Homo sapiens: one gene and its partner. The protein of the gene in region 1 interacts with the protein of each later gene in a pairwise test. Each region holds a gene or a part of one and is shown on either strand. Other genes may lie near its edges.

Region 1 (10,578 bases):
GAGCTGGGACTACAGGTGTACATCACCACACCTGGCTAATTTTTTAATTTTTTTGTGGAGATTGAGATCTTGCCATGTTGCTCAGGCTGGTCTCGAACTCCTGAGCTCAAGTGATCCTCCTGCCTCAACCTCCCAAAATACTGGGATTACAGGCATGAGCCACCATGCCCGGCCTGATTTTTTTTCATTGATGATTTTCTCCATCTGTTCTCTCTTTCTGAAATTTGTACTACTTGGATGTTACATTTGCAAGACTGGTCGTCTATTTTTCTTTTCTCTTTCCAATTTTCATCTCTCTGTTTGCTCTTTTAGGGAAATTTCTTTAACTTTACCCTCTAACGTTTCCATTAAATTTATTTTCATTTTTACTGTTACGTTTTTAATTTCCAAGAGTTCCTTTTTGTTTTCTGAATGCTCACGCTTCCTCTCCCATCTCCCCCTCATTTGTTTTTTTCATAGCTTCCTGGTCTTGTTTCTTGGGTGCAGTAATTTCTTTTATCAACCTGGAAATCTTAGTACAAATGTTTGAGTGGTTCTCTTCTCCTTACACAGTCTTAGTTTTTGTCCAGGTTGACATTTTTTTGTTTGCCCACTTCAACCTCTTTTTTTTTTTTTTTTTTTGAGATAGGGTTTTGCTGTGCACCCAGGCTGAAGTGTAGTGGCATAATCATGGCTCACTGCAGCCTCAAACTTCTGGGCTCAAGCAATCCTCCTACCTCAGCCTCCTGAATAGCTGGGACTACAGGCATGCGCCACCACACCTGGCTAATTTTTTGTAGGGATGAGGTCTCACTACGTTGCACAGGCTGGACTCAAACTCCTGGGCTCCAAGGATCCTCCCACCTCAGCCTCCCAAAGTGCTGGGGTTACAGGCGTGCGCCACTGTACCTGGCCCTCTTTTGGAATACAGTGTTTCTTGGGTAAATCTTGGATGTCTGCTCACTTAAGAGGAGAAAGACTGAGAAACTGACTGGAAGCTGGGGTGTATGAATACTCCTTTCTTACCCATTTTGTCATAGGATCTTCTGGTTGGCTATTTTTATGGGAGAACCCCTGCTGTCAGCAGCTTTGGGTCTTTTCCTCTCGGGCTGGCTTATTTTCCTGAGAAACTTTTCCAGTCTGCTGCTGAGAGGGTAAAGCAGGCTGGGGACTCAGCACTCAAAATATGGTCACTCGGCTGGGTACAGTGGCTCACGCCTGTAATCCCAGCACTTTGGGAGGCTGAGGCAGGTGGATCACGAGGTCAGGAGTTTAAGACCAGCCTGGCCAACATAGTGAAACCCCGTCTCTACTAAAAATACAAAAAAAATTAGCCAGGCTTGGTGGTGGGCACCTGTAATCCCAGCCCACTTGGGAGGCTGAGGCAAGGAGAATCGCTTGAACCTGGGAGGTGGAGGTTGCAGCAAGCCGAGATTGCACCACTGCACTCCAGCCCAAGCGACAGTGCGAGACTCCGTCTCAAAAAAAAAAAAGTCACTCGAATCCCCCGCCCCTGCCTTTCCCAACACTATCCCCTGTGTGACAGTGCTTGATGGCCCCAGGACAAAGACCGGCTCCAGAGAATAAAATCCCGGCACTGACAGCCACTTCATCACCAAGGCCTCTGAATGCTGCTTTCTAAGAGCCCACAAATGTGGCCACTTCTCCCATGTCCACCATCACTCAGTCCAAGTTGCCATCATCTCTCCCCAGACCGTGGACACAGCTGCCAACGTCTTGCCCTCCCATCATCTCTGCACCCAGGGACCAGGGTGGCTCTTTCATGCCACTTCCCTGCTGAAACCCCTCCATGATTTCCCATGCCCTCAGGACATGGGCCAGCTCCTCCGCTGAGGTCTGGCTTCTCCCTTCATCCCAGCCTCCTTCTGCAGCCCCTTCCTCACCCTCTTGCACCCCTGTCACATCTGGTGCCTCATCCGACTTTCTGGCCTTAAGACACAGCCCCATTAGCTCCTTCTCCTGAAAGTCTCTGCAGATCCTAGCACTTCTCACCCATTCTAAGAGTGCCCGCTCTCCCTGGGGATCCTGAAGGGAAAGTCTGCACCTCCACATCCACACCCTGAGCTTGAGTGCAGCACCCGGCACCCAAGAGGTGCTGAGCTGTACTGTGCCACAGAGATCATTGCCACTTTCAACTCTGACGAGCTCTGTTCTGGGAGCTGGCTGCCTGGGGAAGGGCTCTCTGACCACTGCCACTGACCCCATGGAGTCAGCCACTGGGTCTGTGAACTGGGGCTCTGTCAGCATGAGTGTCCCCCCGCTCCTGGGACCACCACAGTACATGCTGGTGAAGGGCCAGGATGGAAGGGCTACCTATCAGGTGTGCGGGATGCTGAGTGTGACCCCCAACCACCTTGCATGACCTTGATGCGGTGGCCATCCCAGAGAGGACACTGCTCCACCCAGCTGCTTACCTTTCCTTAGGACAACTGTTTGAAAGTCCCTTTCTAGAATGGTCCTAATGGGCATGGCCAGGGAGCTGGTCCCTCATGTAAGTAGCAACTGGGCAGGCTGCCAGGGCAGCTGGAATGGGGCAGTGGAGCTGTGTTCACAGAACGCTTGTCAGGAGCCAGGCACCTGGTGCTTCTCTGCCCACTTAAAGGAGGGCATTACGATCGCCATTGTATAGATGGGGAAAGAGAAGCTCCCTAAGTGCCTCACTCAGGGTCACACAGCCAGAAAGTGTGAGGGATTCGAACCCAGGATTCTCCAGCCCCAGCTGCACGTTGGTAGCAGGAGAAACAGCGAGAGCTTTCTGGCTCTGTGGCTAACCTCACCAAAGGGAATCCATGCAGACAGCTGCAGTGCACACGGTGTTTTCCCCACACTCTGGCTGTTAGTTTTGTTGGCTAAAACAATCATCACCCTGGAGCTGCTTTTCACAGTTCTAGATTGTGGTGGGTTTCTCAGCCTCTCTGCTGGCTCGGGGAGGCTTCGGGAAGGTGGTGGAGCAGGTGCCCTCTTTGCAGGTAGGGATTGTGAAACATTTGCTCTGGAGCCCAGGGATGAATAATGCGGAAGGCTCTCTTCTCAGGATAATGGATTCCAGAATCCCAGCACTGCTCCGGCAGGAGGCGAGGACCGGTGGCTCTGCACTGGCACCCCCTGTTGACCTGGGTGTGGCTCAGCAGCCTTCTCCTCTGGCTTGTTTTCCAGTAACTGGTGCCCCTACCCAATGTCCAAGCTGGTCACCTTACTAGCTCTTTGCAAAACAGAGAAATTCCTCATCCACTCGCAGCAGCCGTGTCCGCAGGGAGCTCCAGACTGCCAGAAAGTCAAAGTCATGTGAGTAGGGGAGGGTGGGCCATTTGCCCAGGCCTGGAGCGGGCCCTCCCTGGAATCACTGAGCCAGCCCTTCTCCTCTTCCAGGTACCGCATGGCCCACAAGCCAGTGTACCAGGTCAAGCAGAAGGTGCTGACCTCTTTGGCCTGGAGGTGCTGCCCTGGCTACACGGGCCCCAACTGCGAGCACCACGGTAGGGCTCCCTGCGGCCCCCTTCCCCCCTTGACCTCTGATCCCCAAGGTCAAGCAGCTCCTCTGACCACTGGGGTCAATAACTAATGCTTTCTTCTGCAGATTCCATGGCAATCCCTGAGCCTGCAGATCCTGGTGACAGCCACCAGGAACCTCAGGATGGACCAGTCAGCTTCAAACCTGGTGTGTTGCTTTCCGGAAGGGGAAGGCAGGCAGGCTGGTGGGGCCCATGTAGCCAGCTGGCCCTTTTTCCTGTGATACAGCAGTGCCATTTCAGGGAAACCTTGCCTCCAGAATCAGCAAGGCCTGCTCTGTGGCCTGTACCACCTCCCACCTTGAAGGCCAGGCTCACAGGGCCCCCAGCGGCCTACTGGCCAAGCACACACACCCTTTTCCTTCACCCCATCTTCTGGGAAGGACTGGTTCATCTGGCACTTTCCTTGCCCCGCTGAACCACACAAGCCCTTGTGCCTGGAAAAAGCATTCTCACCCTTTCCCACAGCCCTAACCAGAGCCAGGAAGTCATGCTGTCCTTGGTCTTGGAGTCAGCACAGGAAACCCACCAAGAGACACCATTTGCAGCAGGGCCCTTTAAGGCTGGGCCCAAGATTGAGAAAGTAAATGAGTTTCATTATGTGGTGAAGTATTTATTGACAAGGGCTGCCAAGAATGAAGTTGTGAGGCCATGTGCATGTGCTGAGGAGGGGAGTGTACCATGATTGATTAGTCATGTCTGCTGTAGGTGTAGGAGGCAGGGTGAGGGCTCACTTGCTATGCATTTGCCCTCCAGGGGTTTAAGGCTTCTAAGCTCCTGCTCAGAGGACATCAGCAGCTAACTTCCCTGCTCTCAGCCTTCAACTCTCCTTCTCTGAACCTTGTGATCTTCCCAGGCCTGGTGAGTTAGCCCTTGACATTTATGTCTGCTGTGTATTTAGGCCACCTTGCTGCAGTGATCAATGAGGTTGAGGTGCAACAGGAACAGCAGGAACATCTGCTGGGAGATCTCCAGAATGATGTGCACCGGGTGGCAGACAGCCTGCCAGGCCTGTGGAAAGCCCTGCCTGGTAACCTCACAGCTGCAGTGATGGAAGCAAATCAAACAGGGCACGGTGAGTGGCAGGCTCTAGGGGCTGAGGAAGAGCCTGGTCACATTGAGGGGAGGAGGGGAGGACCCCGCTGGTCCCAGCCTGGGAGGAGTGTCTGCTCCTGCAGGGCTTGTGTCACACCACATGTCTGTTGCAGAGTTCCCTGATAGATCCTTGGAGCAGGTGCTGCTACCCCACGTGGACACCTTCCTACAAGTGCATTTCAGCCCCATCTGGAGGAGCTTTAACCAAAGCCTGCACAGCCTTACCCAGGCCATAAGAAACCTGTCTCTTGACGTGGAGGCCAACCGCCAGGCCATCTCCAGAGTCCAGGACAGTGCCGTGGCCAGGGCTGACTTCCAGGAGCTTGGTGCCAAATTTGAGGCCAAGGTCCAGGAGAACACTCAGAGAGTGGGTCAGCTGCGACAGGACGTGGAGGACCGCCTGCACGCCCAGCACTTTACCCTGCACCGCTCGATCTCAGAGCTCCAAGCCGATGTGGACACCAAATTGAAGAGGCTGCACAAGGCTCAGGAGGCCCCAGGGACCAATGGCAGTCTGGTGTTGGCAACGCCTGGGGCTGGGGCAAGGCCTGAGCCGGACAGCCTGCAGGCCAGGCTGGGCCAGCTGCAGAGGAACCTCTCAGAGCTGCACATGACCACGGCCCGCAGGGAGGAGGAGTTGCAGTACACCCTGGAGGACATGAGGGCCACCCTGACCCGGCACGTGGATGAGATCAAGGAACTGTACTCCGAATCGGACGAGACTTTCGATCAGATTAGCAAGGTGGAGCGGCAGGTGGAGGAGCTGCAGGTGAACCACACGGCGCTCCGTGAGCTGCGCGTGATCCTGATGGAGAAGTCTCTGATCATGGAGGAGAACAAGGAGGAGGTGGAGCGGCAGCTCCTGGAGCTCAACCTCACGCTGCAGCACCTGCAGGGTGGCCATGCCGACCTCATCAAGTACGTGAAGGACTGCAATTGCCAGAAGCTCTATTTAGACCTGGACGTCATCCGGGAGGGCCAGAGGGACGCCACGCGTGCCCTGGAGGAGACCCAGGTGAGCCTGGACGAGCGGCGGCAGCTGGACGGCTCCTCCCTGCAGGCCCTGCAGAACGCCGTGGACGCCGTGTCGCTGGCCGTGGACGCGCACAAAGCGGAGGGCGAGCGGGCGCGGGCGGCCACGTCGCGGCTCCGGAGCCAAGTGCAGGCGCTGGATGACGAGGTGGGCGCGCTGAAGGCGGCCGCGGCCGAGGCCCGCCACGAGGTGCGCCAGCTGCACAGCGCCTTCGCCGCCCTGCTGGAGGACGCGCTGCGGCACGAGGCGGTGCTGGCCGCGCTCTTCGGGGAGGAGGTGCTGGAGGAGATGTCTGAGCAGACGCCGGGACCGCTGCCCCTGAGCTACGAGCAGATCCGCGTGGCCCTGCAGGACGCCGCTAGCGGGCTGCAGGAGCAGGCGCTCGGCTGGGACGAGCTGGCCGCCCGAGTGACGGCCCTGGAGCAGGCCTCGGAGCCCCCGCGGCCGGCAGAGCACCTGGAGCCCAGCCACGACGCGGGCCGCGAGGAGGCCGCCACCACCGCCCTGGCCGGGCTGGCGCGGGAGCTCCAGAGCCTGAGCAACGACGTCAAGAATGTCGGGCGGTGCTGCGAGGCCGAGGCCGGGGCCGGGGCCGCCTCCCTCAACGCCTCCCTTCACGGCCTCCACAACGCACTCTTCGCCACTCAGCGCAGCTTGGAGCAGCACCAGCGGCTCTTCCACAGCCTCTTTGGGAACTTCCAAGGGCTCATGGAAGCCAACGTCAGCCTGGACCTGGGGAAGCTGCAGACCATGCTGAGCAGGAAAGGGAAGAAGCAGCAGAAAGACCTGGAAGCTCCCCGGAAGAGGGACAAGAAGGAAGCGGAGCCTTTGGTGGACATACGGGTCACAGGGCCTGTGCCAGGTGCCTTGGGCGCGGCGCTCTGGGAGGCAGGTGAGTTCCTGGGCTGGGGAGACTGGACGAGCCTAGGAGGCCAGGGCCGGCTGCCGGCAGCTCTTCTGCCTCCAAGAGGGCCAGGAAGAAAGAGAACAGGATGGCCATCCGTCACCCCTACTAGGTCCACCTTCCCCTTGGCCCACCTGCTTCTCAGGGGTGTGGGTCTCTCAAGCTACCTGGCTTATGGGGAGACAGAAGTCACAAGAACCACCTGCTAGTGCCAGAGCCCGTGAGCGGCATAGCCTGGAGGCCACAGGCACAATAGTGCCGCCTACTGCTCCTGCTACAGAGAGGGCATCGCCTCCTGCCCTGCCAGGGCAGCCTTCAAGTCCCCCCATCTCATCTCTTCACCTCACCCCCTTCATTCCCATGTGCGTTTAAGCCACTGTATCTAGGAAGAATGTGGATAGGGACTGTGGCCACTTGCAGCCCCACTTAGTTCTGTTTCATTTTCCATGATTTTAGTTTTTTTTTTGTTTTTTTTTTCTTTTTCTTTTCTTTTTTTTTTTTTTTTTAAGATGGGTCTCACTTTGTCGTCCAGGCTTGAGTACAGTGGTGGGATCATGGCTCACTGCAGCCTAGACCTCTCCAGGCTCAGCTGATCCTCCCACTTCAGCCTCCAGAGTAGCTAGGACTTACAGGCATGTGTCACCATGCCTAGCTAATTTTTGTACTTTTTGTAGAGACAGGGTCTTGCTATGGTGCCCAGGCTGGTCTCAAATTCCTGGGATCAAGTAATCTGCCCACCTCAGCCTCCTAAAGTGTTAGGATTACAGGTGTGAGCCATGTGCCCAGCCTTGATTTCAGTTTCTTGCATCAACCACGATCAGAAAATAGGTGAGTACAGTACAATAAGATTTTGAGAGAGGGAGACACCACATTCATATAACTTTTATTACAGTATACTGTTATAATTGCTTTATATTTTATTATTATTGTCAATCTCTTACTGTGCCTAATTTACAAGTTAAACTTTGGCATAGGTATGTACATAGAGGAAAATAAATAGTATATATAGGGTTTGGTACTGTCTGAGATTTCAGGCACCTGCTAAGGTCTTGGAACACACCTCAGTGGACTGTACAGGGAAAGCCGTGGGCCCTGAAAGGAGCTCATTCCCTCTGCAAATACAGTTAACCTGTCTCATCGCTCTGTGCTAGTCCCCTTCCTGGGCTTTACCACAATGGCCCATCCCAACAGGTCAATGACACACTCATCAGCACTTCCATCTTACCTGAAACTGAGGCGCAAACACAAGTTTCCTGCTTGCACAGCTAGTGAGCAGCAGAGGAGCGCTGTCTTTAGGGTGCCGGTTCTTCACCTCCAGAAGGCCCTCCATGGCTGGTCCCTGCAGGGCCCTGGGCCTGGGAGCTGGCTTTGAGGCTGAAGGCATGTGCAACCAAGCTTCCCATCCCCTCCCTGAGTGTGGTCCCGGGAGGGGGACAACTAGGCTCTGTGTCTCAAGTGACTCTCTCTGCCAGAGGCTGGCCTTGGAGCTGTGGCCTCTCCCCACCCAGACACAGGGCTAAGTACAAGGCCACCATCTTGGCCATGTGCAGCCTGGCGTGTGGCAAGTCCAAGGCCTTGTTGAAGGTCCCGTCCCAGGCAGCCCCTGCCCCAGCTGACCCTCCCTATGGCCCAAGAGGCAATGTGGAGCAGTGGGAAGCACCCAGGCTCTGGCATCACTTGTCTGTTTCTTCCTCAGTAAAATGGCAGAATCCCTACCCATGTCAAAGTTTTGTTATGAAGACTGCTGCGTTTACCAAATACCTAGCACGAGGCTTACCTCATGTAGGAACGCAGTCAACGTTTTCCCATTTCCCCAGCATTTTCAGGGTTCAGGTTGTGTCCACCGACACTGACACTTCTCTCTTGTTTCCTCTCGTGCGTGGTGCAAGGCTTCAATATGCTGATGACTTTCAGAATTTGCCCCACGGTTTGGAAATGTGTTTACCACGACGATATTTATTTCAAAAAAATGTTGTTCTTAAAAACAAATTTCCAGGCCGGGCGCAGTGGCTCATGCCTATAATCCCAGCAGTTTGGGAGGCCGAGGCGGGTGGATCACTTGAGGTCAGGAGTTCAAGACCAGCCTGGCCAACATGGTGAAACCCCATCTCTACTAAAAATACAAAATTAGCCGGGTGTGGTGGCGGGCGCCTAATCCCAGCTACTCGGGAGGCTGAGACAGGAGAATCACTTGAACCCGGGAGGCAGAGGCTGCAGTGAGCCGAGATTGCGCCACTGCACTCCAGCCTGGGCAAGAAGAGCGAAACTGTCAAAAAAAAAAAAAAAATTAGCCCGGTGTGGTGGCAGGCACCTGTAATCCCAACTACCTGGAAGGCTGAGGCAGGAGAATCGCTTGAACCTGGGAGGCAGAGGTTGCTGTGAGCCAAGATAGCTCCATTGCACTCCAGCCTGGGCGGCAGAGTAGGACTCTGTCTCAAACACACACACACACACACACACACACAAACACACACACACACACACACACACACACACACCCCAAATTTCCCTTTATTTGTTTGTAGGAAGGCTGTAGGGCTTGAATGTGTGCCCTGCAGGGAAGCACACTCTGAGTTTGCACAGCCCTTCCCGCATCTTAGGGCCTGTCAGGCGCAAGGCTGGGTTGGGGTGGGGGTCTCTCTCTGCGGCGGAACTCCCTGCGCAGGCGCCCGGACGGAACGGCCGGAACGAGGGCCTAGCACCGGTAGAGGGCGCTGCGGGCCGGCCTTCCTTCGGCTAGGCAAGAGAACCACCTGCAGGGTGTTAGGGGAATTGCAGAGGCAGCCGCCGGCCTCTGACTTGGGCACAATCTTTTTTTTTTTTTTTTTTTTTTTTTTTTTTTTGAGACGGAGTCTCGCCCTTTCGCTCAGGGTGGAGTGCAATGGCACGATCTCGGCTCACTGCAACCTCCGCCTTCCGGGTTCAAACGATTCTCCTGCCTCAGCCTCCCGAGTAGCTAGGATTACAGGCGCCTGCCACCATGCCCAGCTAATTTTTGTAGTTTTAGTAGAGACGGGATTTCACCATGTTGGCCAGGCTGGTCTCTATCTCCTGACCTCGTGATCCGCCCACCTCGGCCTTCCAAAGTGCTGGGATTACAGGCGTGAGCCATTGCGCCCGGCATTTTTTTTTTTTTTTTTTTTTGACGGAGTTTCACTCTCGTTGCCCAGGCTGGAGTGCAACGGCGTGATCTCGGCTCACGGCAACCTCCGCCTCCCGGGTGCAAGCGATTCTCATGCCTCAGCCTCCCAAGTAGCTGGGATTACAGGTATGCCCCACCACGCCTGGCTAATTTTGTATTTTTAGTAGAGATGGGATTTCTCCATGTTGGTCACGCTGGTCTCGAATTCCCGACTTCAGGTGATCCGCCCGCCTTGGCCTCCCAAAGTGCTGGGATTACAGGCGTGAGCCACTGCGCCCGGCTGATTTGACACAATCTGAACACAAATGAGAAAGCTATTCTCAGCTGTCTAATTCTCAGAAAATCTTCCAGAACTAGAGAAAAGCAACATTTTTTTATTCACAAAGGCTTGCTGGATTGGGAGTCAAAGAGCTGAGGCTTGAGTTCCGGGACCCAAGTCAGTAATTGCTCAGCAAACTGCTCCTCTGAAGGCTTTGGTTTTATCACCTAAGAAATGGGGACCTTGTTTTAAACCCCTACAGAGGGAGCAAGTTGAGGAACCCCATGGTGGACATGACCTCGTTGGTGCCAAGGCCAGTGTCACAGCCAGGACCCAAGTAGGACTTACCTTTCCTGTGCCATCTCATGACCCTGTCCCCAGCTGCCCAACCATGCTGTCCAGGCAGCAGGACTGGCTTCTTCCTGGCTGTTTGTACACCCTCCACACATGGCAGCTTCCTCTGCTTCTGTGCCCGTGCATGGGCCTGGCACCAGTGTTCTGTCAGTGTTCCTGTCCTAAGGCTGGCCAAAGTGGTCCCTGCAGAGAACCAGAAGTCTAGAGATTCAAGGTCTGTTCCCAGGAGGCTTGGTAATTTACTAGTTGTGTGGTCTGGAGCAATAAGCTTTTTCTTTCTGG
Region 2 (10,578 bases), on another chromosome or scaffold:
AAGTGGAGGATGCCAGAGGTTTCACCCCAGTGGCCTTTGCCATGCTGGGAGTCACCACCGTCCGTTCTCGGATGAGGCGGGCCCTGGTGTTTGGCATGGTTGTGCCCTCAGTCCTGGTTCCGTGGCTCCTGCTGGGTGCCTCGTGGCTCATTCCCCAGACCTCTTTCCTCAGTAATGTCTGCGGGCTGTCCATCGGGCTGGCCTGTATCCTTCCTAGCAGAGAGCTATAGAACAACGCATGTCAAAGGGTGAACCAGGCTGGAGGGTCTGGGGTGTCAAGTAGATAAAATTGGGCTTACTTTGTATTTTTTCGAAACAGAGTCTCTGTCACCCAGGCTGGAGTGCAGTGGCAGGATCTCAACTCACTGCAACCTCTGCCTCCTGGGCTCAAGCAATCCTGCCTCAGCCCCCTGAGTAGCTGGGACTACAGGTGTGCACCACTACACCCGGCTAATTTTTATATTTTCTTTTTAGTAGACACAGGGTTTCACCATGTTGCCCAGGCTGGTCTTGAACTCCTGGTCTCAGGTGATCTACCCACCGTGGCCTCCCAAAGTGCTAGGATTACAGGTGTGAGCCACCGTGGCCGAGTCATATCTGATCATAATTTTTTTTTACTTTTTTTTTCATATCTGGTAATTTTTTATTTTATGCTAGACACTGAATGCTGTATTAGGGGCTCTAGATTTTGTTGTTTTCCTTTAAAAAATGTTGACTTTTGTTCTGATAGGCGGTTAACTTACTTGAAGATTGGCTTGAAACTTGAGGTTTGTTTCTAAGCTCTTTTCGGGAGAGTCTAGCATAGCCTTTATTCAAAGGCTGAATCTTTGTGGCTGCCTAATCAGTGGTGGGTGACTTAGGTCAGACGACCAGGATACCACCAAGTTGCTGGGGATGGTGACAGGGTATGGAGGAAGCACAGCCAGAGAGGCCCACATGAAGCTCACATGGTCGCACTGAGGCAGGTGCCCTCTATTTGAGATAAAAGGACGAGGTGTTAGTCCCTCAGGATGATACTGGTACAGCCTCCTGCCTTATCCTGCTACACCAGCAGAGGCATGTCCTGGCTTCTGACTGACTGCAGTGGCTAGAAGGGTGCAAGTGGTGGCACACATGGGTGTAGGAGAAGGGACAGCATTAATACCCCCTGCTGCTGGGCGCATTCATTCCCGGTGAGGCACAGTGAGTAGAAACCTTTGGCTCTGGGGTCAGGCGCAGTGGCTCACGCCTGTAATACTAGCACTTTGGGAGGCTGAGGCAGGCAGATCACGAGGTCAGGAGTTTAAGACCAGCCTAGCCAATATGGTGAAACACTGTCTCTACTGAAAATACAAAAATTAGCTGGGTGTGGTGACGGGCACCTGTAGTCCCAGCTACTCTGGAGGCTGAGGCAGGAGAATGGTGTGATCTGGGAGGCGGAGCTTGCAGTGAGCCAAGATCACACCACTGCACTCCAGCCTGGGCTGCTAGAGTGAGACTCCATCTCAAAAAAAAAAACAAACCTTTGGCTCTGGGTTTCCCCTGAGCTGCAAACTCCAGCCAGAGTGTGCAGCGTGCTAAGCATGAAGGCTTCTGTAGAGTGAGTGGGAACCTGTGTTCTCCCCGGGGAGTGTTCGGCCCTCCTCCCTTTGCTGCCTCCAGTTTCACTTAACACGCCAACCTCAGATGGCCTCACCTACTGCTATTCCATCGACCTCTCAGAGCGAGTGGCACTGAAGCTCGATCAGACCTTCCCCTTCAGCCTGATGAGGAGGATATCCGTGTTCAAGTACGTCTCAGGGTCTTCAGCCGAGAGGAGGGCAGCCCAGAGCCGGAAGTAAGTGACAGAACTCTTAAGTGCTGTTAAATCTTTTTTAAAAAAAAAATTATTTTTTTTTTTTGAGACGGAGTCTCACTCTGTCACCCAGGCTGTAGTGCAGTGGCACAATCTCGGCTCACTGCAACCTCTGCTTCAGGTTCAAGTGATTCTTCTGCCTCAGTCTCCTCAGTGTCTGGGATTACAGGTGCCCACCACTACATCCAGCTAATTTTTTTGTATTTTTAGTAGAGATGGGGTTTCACCATGTTGGCCAGGCTGGTCTCGAACTCCTGACCTTGTGATTTACCTGCCTCGGCCTCCCAAAGTGCTGGGATTACAGGCGTGAGCCACTGCCCCCGGCCAAATGCTGTCAAATCTTATTCTGTTTTTTTATTCTTTTTTTTATTTGAGGACAGGGTCTTGCCCTGTTGCCCAGGCTGGATTGCAGTGGTATGATCATAGCCCGCTACAGCCTCACACTCGTGGACTCAAGTGATCCTCCCACCTCAGCCTCCCAAGTAACTGAGACTACAGGCACATACCATCATGCCTAGCTAACTTAAATTTTTTGTAGGGACAGGGTCTCCACTGTGTTACCAAGGCTGGTCTCAAACTCCTGGTCTCAATCCATCCTTCCTTGATTTCTCAAAGTACTGGGATTACAGGTGTGAGCCACTGAGCCTGGCCTAACCTTATTATTAAAGCAACTCCAGGGCATGCAGAGGGTGTGGCTGGTTTATTGCCGTAAGTGATAAAGAAATGAGGTGCGGCAGATTGGAAAATAATGCACAGATGTCTTCTGAGCATTCTGGATTCTGCACAACTGCTTCTGAAGTAGCAACAGCAGGAAAGGGAAGGCATTTGAGGACACTTAACATGTGATCCTGAGTGACTTGTAGATAGGCTGGGCAGGAGGGCCCCCATCTAATTGACATTAGACACATACCTGCTGCAGGTCAGCCTGGGCTGTGACACACAATAGCCTCGATAAGTGCAGATAGGGCTGGGTGCGATGGCTCACGCCTGTAATCCCAGCACTTTGGGAGGCCAAGGTGGGCAGATCATATAAGGTCAGGAATTTGAGACGAGCCTGGCCAACGTGATGAAACCCCATCTCTGCTAAAAATACAAAAATTATCCAAGCGTGGTGGTGGTTGCCTGTAATCCCAGCTACTCAGGAGGCTGAGGCAGGAGAATCACTCGAACCTGGGAGGTGGAGGTTGCAGTGCACCGAGATCACACCACAGCACTCCAGCCTGGTTGACAGAGCAAGACACTGTCTCCCAAGAAAAAAAAAAAAAAAAAGGTGCAGACAGTCCACACAGCCAACTAGGCTGCTTAGGAGGTGGCCCAGCCCAGGTTTTCTGGTGAGGTTTACTGTTTTCCAGTTGGCTGATTAACTCACAGATGGAAAGTGCTGGTAAGCCGCCAGAGCTTGTGTGGCCTGGCTGCTTCATTTTATAGAGGAGGCCCAAAGAAGACAAGGGTCTTTCTCACCCACTCTGTTTCCAGGTAACAGAGTCAGGAGAGGGGCCATCTGGAAGCACGTCCCCTGCTTAGGAGGCCACCTCCCTCCCTCTCCCCTGTTCCCAGTGCCTCCTGCCTCTGAGTTCTCCGCTGGTTTCTGTCCATGCTGAGACCTCACAGTGTAGGATTTTTTCTTTCCTTCAGTGGTCCTCCCCCCAAAAAAGGAGCTCGCTGGGAAAGGCGTGTTCATCCATTTTGTATTGCTATAAAGAAATACCTGAGCCTGGGTCATTTATAAGAAAAGAGGTTTATTTGGCTCATGGCTTCGTAGGCTACACTAGGATCATGGCACCGGCCTCAGGCAGCTTCCAATCATAGGGCAAGGGGAGGCGGCACCACACATTGAGAGAGGGAGGGAGGTGCTGGGCTCTTAAACACCCAGCTCTTACCTAAACTCAGAGGGAGAACTCATTACTACGGGGAAGAAGCCAAGCCACTCACGCAAGGTCTGCCCCCGTGACCCAGACGCCTCCCACTGAGCTCCACCTCTAGTGCTGGAACACTGGGAATCACGTTTCTTTTTTTTTGAAATGGAGTCTCACTCTGTGGCCCAGGCTGGAGTGCAGTGGCGTGATCTCAGCTCACTGCAACCTCCACCTCCTGGGTTCAAGTGATTCTCCTGTCTCAGCCTCCCAAGTACTTGGAATTATAGGCGCGTGCCACTATACCCGGCTAAAGATCCATTTCAGCACATGATTTGGAGCAGAGGAAACATCCAAAGTGTATCAGAAGGCAAGGTGCTTGGTCCTTGGCCCTTTTTGGCCCGCCACCAGCTGTGGAGTAAATTTTCCCCTGCACGCTGGCCTGGATGTGGGGTTTTTGTTGAATAGGAAGCTGCCCTTAGAGCTTCTTCCAAGAGGTGCTCCCAGCTGTCAACAGCTCAGAGCCCTTGGACTATTTTTCTAAAAGGCCAGGAGGGCTGCTGGGAAAACAGAAATGCGGACTCACCGCATTATTGCTTCAGGCAAGTAATTCCTGGGGTCTCAATGTGGGGGAGACTGTACATTTAGGACTAGGTGTTTTGTGGGTTTTAGTTGTTCTCATTGAATCTGGAGAACTGTCTGTCACCAAGGAATCCCCTCTGTAATAGCTGATGGTGGTCTCCAGCTGTATCTCACATACAAGAGCTCACTCTCCAAGACTGGCCCTGATGAGAAAGTTCTTCCATGCTGAAGGGCCGGGCGCGGTGGCTCACACCTGTAATCCCAGCACTTTGGGAGGCTGATGCGGGTGGATCACGAGATCAGGAGATCGAGACCATCCTGGCTAACACGGTGAAACCCCATCTCTACTAAAAATACAAAAAATTGGCCATGTGCGGTGGTGGGCACCTGTAGTCCCAGCTACTCGGGAGGCTGAGCCAGGAGAATGGTGTGAACCTGGGAGGTGGAGCTTGCAGTGAGCCGAGATCGCGCCACTGCACTCCAGCCTGGGCAAAAGAGCGAGACTCCGTCTCAAAAAAAAAAAAAAAGAGTTCTTCCATGCTGAATTGCAATCAGCCTCACAGACACTGCCACACCCAGTGCCAGGTCTGATCCTGCCTCACTGTGACAGGCAGATCTTAGGGTTTAAGAGGAAGATGGTGTTCCTTCTGTGTTCCCCACGTGACATGGAGTCCAGTCCCTCAGGTCTGGTGCCTGCTGCAGACACTCAGAATATTGTGTTTCAGGCAGCCTGACAGTGGGTCCAGGGCCATGTCATGACACGCATGTTTATTTTGTCAGCAAGATGGCCGTTTGGACAGCTTGTCTCCTCAGAGGCTCTTGTTGATAGATAATTTTTTTTTTTTTTTTTTTTTTACACATGGTCTTGCTCTGTTGCCTAGGCTGGAGTGCAGTGGCACAGTCATAACTCACTGCAGCCTCAAACTTCTGGGTTTAAGCAGTCCTCCTACCTCAGCCTCTTAAGTACCTGGGACTAGAAGCATATGCCACCAGACCTGGCTAATTAAAAAAAAAAAAAAACAATTTTTTTTTTTGAGACAGAGTCTTGCTCTGTCACCCAGGCTGGAGTGCAGTGGCACAATCTTGGCTCACTGCAACCTCTGCCTCCCAGGTTCAAGCGATTCTCCTGCCTCAGCCTTCTGAGTAGCTGGGACTACAGGCGCCTGCCACCACACCTGGCTAATTTTTTTTTTTTAATTTTTAGTAGAGACCGGGTTTCATCATGTTGGCCAGGCTAGTCTCGAACTCCTGACCTCAGATGATCCACCCGCCTTGGCCTCCCAAAGTGCTGGGATTGCAGGTGTGAGCCACCATGCCCAGCCTGAATCCGTTCTCTTTGGGCAGAATTGTCGAGCCAGCCACACAGGCACTGGCAGCTGTGACCTGGTCCCAACGCTCCATCTGGTTTAGAAGCTGCTGTGAGCAGGTCACCCCTCCGGTGGTCTCAGTGGCAGGTCCAGTGTCCTTTCATACAACTCCCTTGCTGCAGGACTGCAACTGGCCCCACCCTCCCTGGGCATCTGTGGTCTGATTGGTTGAGGTTAACCTTTCTCCCACTTGGTACTTAGAGCAAGTCACAGAAAACATCCAAGGCATGTTGTACTAGAAAGCGGGGGCAACCTCAAGCACAAGATGCCATGACCTTGCCAAGACTCGCTGAAGGACCATTTTCTCTCTTGTTCCATTCCAGACTGAACCCGGTGCCTGGCTCCTACCCCACACAGAGCTGCCACCCTCACCTGTCCCCAAGCCACCCTGTGTCCCAGACGCAGCACGCCAGTGGTCAGAAGCTGGCCTCCTGGCCCTCCTGCACCCCCGGGCACATGCCCACCTTGCCTCCGTACCAGCCTGCCTCCGGCCTGTGCTATGTGCAGAACCACTTTGGTCCAAACCCCACCTCCTCCAGTGTCTACCCAGCTTCTGCGGGCACCTCCCTGGGCATCCAGCCCCCCACGCCTGTGAACAGCCCTGGCACGGTGTATTCTGGGGCCTTGGGCACACCAGGGGCTGCAGGCTCCAAGGAGTCCTCCAGGGTCCCCATGCCCTGAGAGAATTTCTAGGGAAGTCATCTCACTTGGCCTTCTGAAGGTCCTCCCTAAGAGTCTCCTGACAAAAGTTACTTATTGAACACCTCTATGTGCCAGGCTCTGTGTTGGGTACTTTGATCAATGCCCCTGTTTCAGTCTCATCTGTACTCACGGCAGCCCTGTGGAGTACGGTGTACTGGCCCAGCTTACAGATGCAGAAAGCGAGACGTTCTGCCATCAGATAAAGTCACGTGGCTCTTTAGTAACACGGACAAGGCTCCTCGCCAAGGAACTCGTGGCAGAAGAGGGCAGCAGTTGGCAGTAGCTGCCGATGTCTGTCCCCAGCTCCACCATTCCTCCCTGTGGCTGTGCCGTGCTCGTGGTTTCAGTGTCCGTGTGTCCATGTGTCTGCCCTTCAGGAGCTCGCAGCTGGTGTGCTTGGCGGTCCCAGGCCTGTGTAGTGTCTCTCCCCTGCTGCGGGCGCCCCCACCCCGATTCCTCTCCCCAGAAGCGGTGGGATGGGCCCCCATGAACTGCAGCAGCATGCTGAGGTGTCCATGTTGTCTGCCTTTGTATAAAGAAACAGCCTCTGACCTGCCGTGCTGGCGTGTGCTTCCTTTGTGGTCTGGCTGGGGAAGAGGGAGTGCGCTGAGATCTGGGCAGTGGCAATGTGTGGTGTGGCGGCAGAGAGGAGAGATGCACCAGGGCCAGGTCAGGCAGGTGACCAGGGCCCAGTGGGTCAGGAATGGGGGTCTCGTGGGGAGCAGGCAACTGAGATGGGTACCAGCAGGAGCCACTGCTGCCCTGAGAGAGAGGGGTGTTGCCAGAGCCCAGAAGCTGGGACTACAGTTAGGAGGGCTGCTGGCAGGGCTGTGCCAAGAAGGACATGGGCACTGCTGGCGATGTCCCTGAAGCAAGACGGGAGAAGACGCTGGCTTTACCACCAGTGTCTCCTGTTGGCCATGTTGACCAGGAACCAGGAGTGAGGGGCGGGGGGCCTCTATGAGACAGTGCAGGGCACTGATGAGTGTGGCTGAGCTGTCACTCACCTGGCCAGCCCTTGAGGACAGCTGGGGCTCCTCACGGCAGGCTGTGTTGAGAAGGCATGCCAGCTGCCTGGTGTTTTGTGGACCTAGTAACACGTGGCCTTCATTTATCCCAGGAGCTGGATGGCCCATTCTAGACTGGCTTTCTGATAGGTTTTAGGTCTTTGGACATGTATAAGACAGAACCCCAAGCCCATCCAGCCTGGTGAGGGTGGGGCCGTGACGGGCCCACGCCTGGGGGGGCCTCAGACATGAGCAAGAAGGGGCCTGCGCTGGGGTGAGAGGGTGTGCCACTGTGTGTGGCCCTGGTTTTTAAATCTCTTTGTTCCTTGGGACTTTTCCTTAGTCTGGCCACAATGCACAACACAGCCTGGAGTCAGCTCACAGTGGGACCCTTTCTCACCCTCACGTGCATTTTGGAAGCTCTGGAGGCCATCCCAACCCCTTCTCCCATTTGCCTGTCAAATCATCCACTAATATGCCCATGTCCGGAAACCATTCACTGATTCTGTGCCAAGCCGGAGGCTCAATGATGATGAGCCCCATGTGCGCAGGGAGCCCCTAGCATGGGGCCTGGCACTCAATAAATATGAGTGGAATGAACGGATGAATAGGTGATGCCCGCCCTTGGGGAGCTCATTGGAGCAGAAGAAATGGAAAATAATTATCATTCAGGCCGGGCTCAGTGACTCACGCCTGTCATTCCAGCACTTTGGGAGGTCTGGGTGGGCGGATCGCTTGAGGTCAGGAGTTCAAGACCAGCCTGGCCAACATGGTGAAATCCCATCTCTACTAAAAATGCAAAAATTGGCCGGGCGCAGTGGCTCACATCTGTAATCCTAGCACTTTGGGAGGCCAAGGCTGGTGGATTACGAGGTCAGGAATTCAAGACCAGCCTGGCTAAGATGGTGAAACCCTGTCTCTATTTACAAAAATTAGCCGGGCGTGGTGGTGGGCGCCTGTAATCACAGCTATCCGGGAGGCTGAGGCAGGGAGGCGGAGGTTGCAGTGAGCCGAGATCATGCCACTGCACTCCAGCCTGAGTGACAGAGTGAGACTCCATCTCAAAAAAAAAAATTAGCTGAGCATGGTGGCACACGCCTGTAGTCCCAGCTACTCGGGAGGCCAAGGCAAGAGAATTGCTTGAACCCAGGAGGCAGAGGTTGCAGCAAACTGAGGTCACACCACTGCACTCCAGCCTGGGTGACAGAGCAAGACTCCCTCTCAAAAAAAAACATTTGTCATTCAGTGCCCTGCAAAGCTGTGATGGGGCGAAGCAGCACTTCAGGGGCGCAGAGGAGGCCCCCAGCCCAGCATGGCCTGACAAGCTGGGGATCAGCAGGATCCTGAGGACCAACCCTTCCATGGAAAGAGAGGGGGGCTGTGGAGGGAGGGTGGGAGGGTACTAACCATGTCCTCTGGCTGTTAGGAGGATGGAGAGCACAGCTCATTAAGCATAAGTGAAAGCATTACCCCCAACATGCTGGAAACCCCTCCCCTCCCATCCCCAGACAGGGCAGGACCCACAGCGGCCAGAGAAGCTTCCAGACATTATCAGTTTCCCTGCTCGGTTGGCGGAGGGCAGCAGAGAAGCAGATTCATGCCCTGCTCGCTCTGCAAACCTCAGGTAGGCTCTGCTCCTCAGCGCGGACATCAGAAGAAAGGCTTGCCCTTATACTCTAAGGCAGTGGTCCCCAACTTTTTTGGCACCAGGGACCGGTTTCGTGGAAGATAATTTTTCCACAGACAGGTATGGGGATGGTTTCAGGATGATTCAAGTGCATTCCATTTATTGTGCACTTTATTATTACATTGTTAATATACAATGAAATAATTATACAACTCACCATAATGCAGAATCAGTGGGAGCCCTGAGCTTGTTTTCCTGCAACTAGAGGGTCCCATCTGGGGGTGATGGGAGACAGTGACAGATGGGTAGACTGGTGCCAGTTGGTGGTCCCTGAGGTTGCGAACCCCTGCTCTAAGGAACTGAGTACCGTGTAGGAAGTTGATTTGCAGGTAATTACAAGGCAAGATAAAGGCTGTGGGAGCCGTGGGTTGAGCTATGTCATTCCTTCACACGCCCATCTGTTTACTGAATCATTCTTTCATTTAAAGAACATGCCGGGCACAGTGGCTCACGCCTGTAATCCCACACTTTGGGAGGCTGAGGCGGGCAGATCACTTGAGGTCAGGAGTTCAAGACCAGTCTGGTCAACATAGTGAAAAACCATCTCTACTAAAAAAAAAAAAAAAAAAAATTAGCCGGGCGTGGTGGCGGGCGCCTCTAGTCCCAGCTACCCGCGAGGCTGAGGCGGGAGAATCACTCGAATCCAGGAGGTGGAGGTTGCAGTGAGCTGAGATCGCACCACTGCACTCCAGCCTGGGCAACAGAGTGAGACTCTGTCACAGAAAAAAAAAAAAAGAGCAGCAACTGTAAATCCAGTGGTCAAGGATGGCCTCCCTGGGAAGGTGACATTTCTGCTGAGACCTGAAGGAATCCAAGAAGAGAAGCAGGTGAAGAGCTTCCAGGTGGACAGGGAGAACAGAGAGCCAGGAGGGAATGGGCCAAGCACGCCCACCCAACATGACAAAGTGGCTGCAGGAGCATGGCACGGGTGATGCAAACAGCAGGTGCTCAATAAATGTTTGTTGCCCTGGACATCTGCACAAGGACAGCGTGGGCTTGGGAGGCCCCACCCATGCTTATTGCTTGGTGCTCTGCGTCCTGATGACCTGTCTGCCTGGCCTAATGGGGAACTCACAGCCAAAGGCCACAGATCCCAGGAGCCTGAGTCCTGGTCACCCCCTCCCTCACCCTTTCACGCATTCATTCATTCGCTCACTCATTCATTCTCTCATCAAATAATTACTGAGCATGTACTACATTCTGGCCTTATCCCAGGGGCTGGGGACACAGAGGTGACTAAGACCTGGTCCCAGCACAGTCTCTAAGGGAGACAGAAACCCACGGTAATGCCAGGAGGTACCAGTTCTGGGAGAAGCAGCCAGTCCTGTAGGACCCAGGCAAGGTCTCTGCTGGCCTCAAGGGCTGGCCAGACCTATGGAACGTAGAAAAAGATGTTCCAGGCTGGGCGTGGTGGCTCACGACTGTAACCCCAGCACTTTGGGAGGCCAGGGCTGCTGGATCACGAGGTCAGGCGTTCCAGACCAGCCTGGCCAACATGGCGAAACCCCATCTCTGCTCAAAATACAAAAATTAGCTGGGTGTGCTG

What was found.
Region 2: the proteins of MMRN2 (region 1) and RHBDD2 interact in binary tests that used the Homo sapiens proteins (3 or more experiments, as listed by UniProt).

What each region holds. Positions count from the first base shown.
Region 1 is NC_000010.11:86,938,268-86,948,845, reverse strand, and holds part of MMRN2 (multimerin-2 precursor), read left to right. Parts: intron 1-3,156; coding exon 3,157-3,285; intron 3,286-3,369; coding exon 3,370-3,476; intron 3,477-3,577; coding exon 3,578-3,658; intron 3,659-4,410; coding exon 4,411-4,584; intron 4,585-4,717; coding exon 4,718-6,529; intron 6,530-10,578. UniProt on the Homo sapiens protein: Extracellular matrix protein that plays significant roles in the vascular system and is required for the maintenance and stability of blood vessel.
Region 2 is NC_000007.14:75,882,033-75,892,610, forward strand, and holds the end of RHBDD2 (rhomboid domain-containing protein 2), read left to right. Parts: coding exon 1-204; intron 205-1,665; coding exon 1,666-1,816; intron 1,817-5,959; coding exon 5,960-6,317; 3' UTR 6,318-6,894; downstream 6,895-10,578.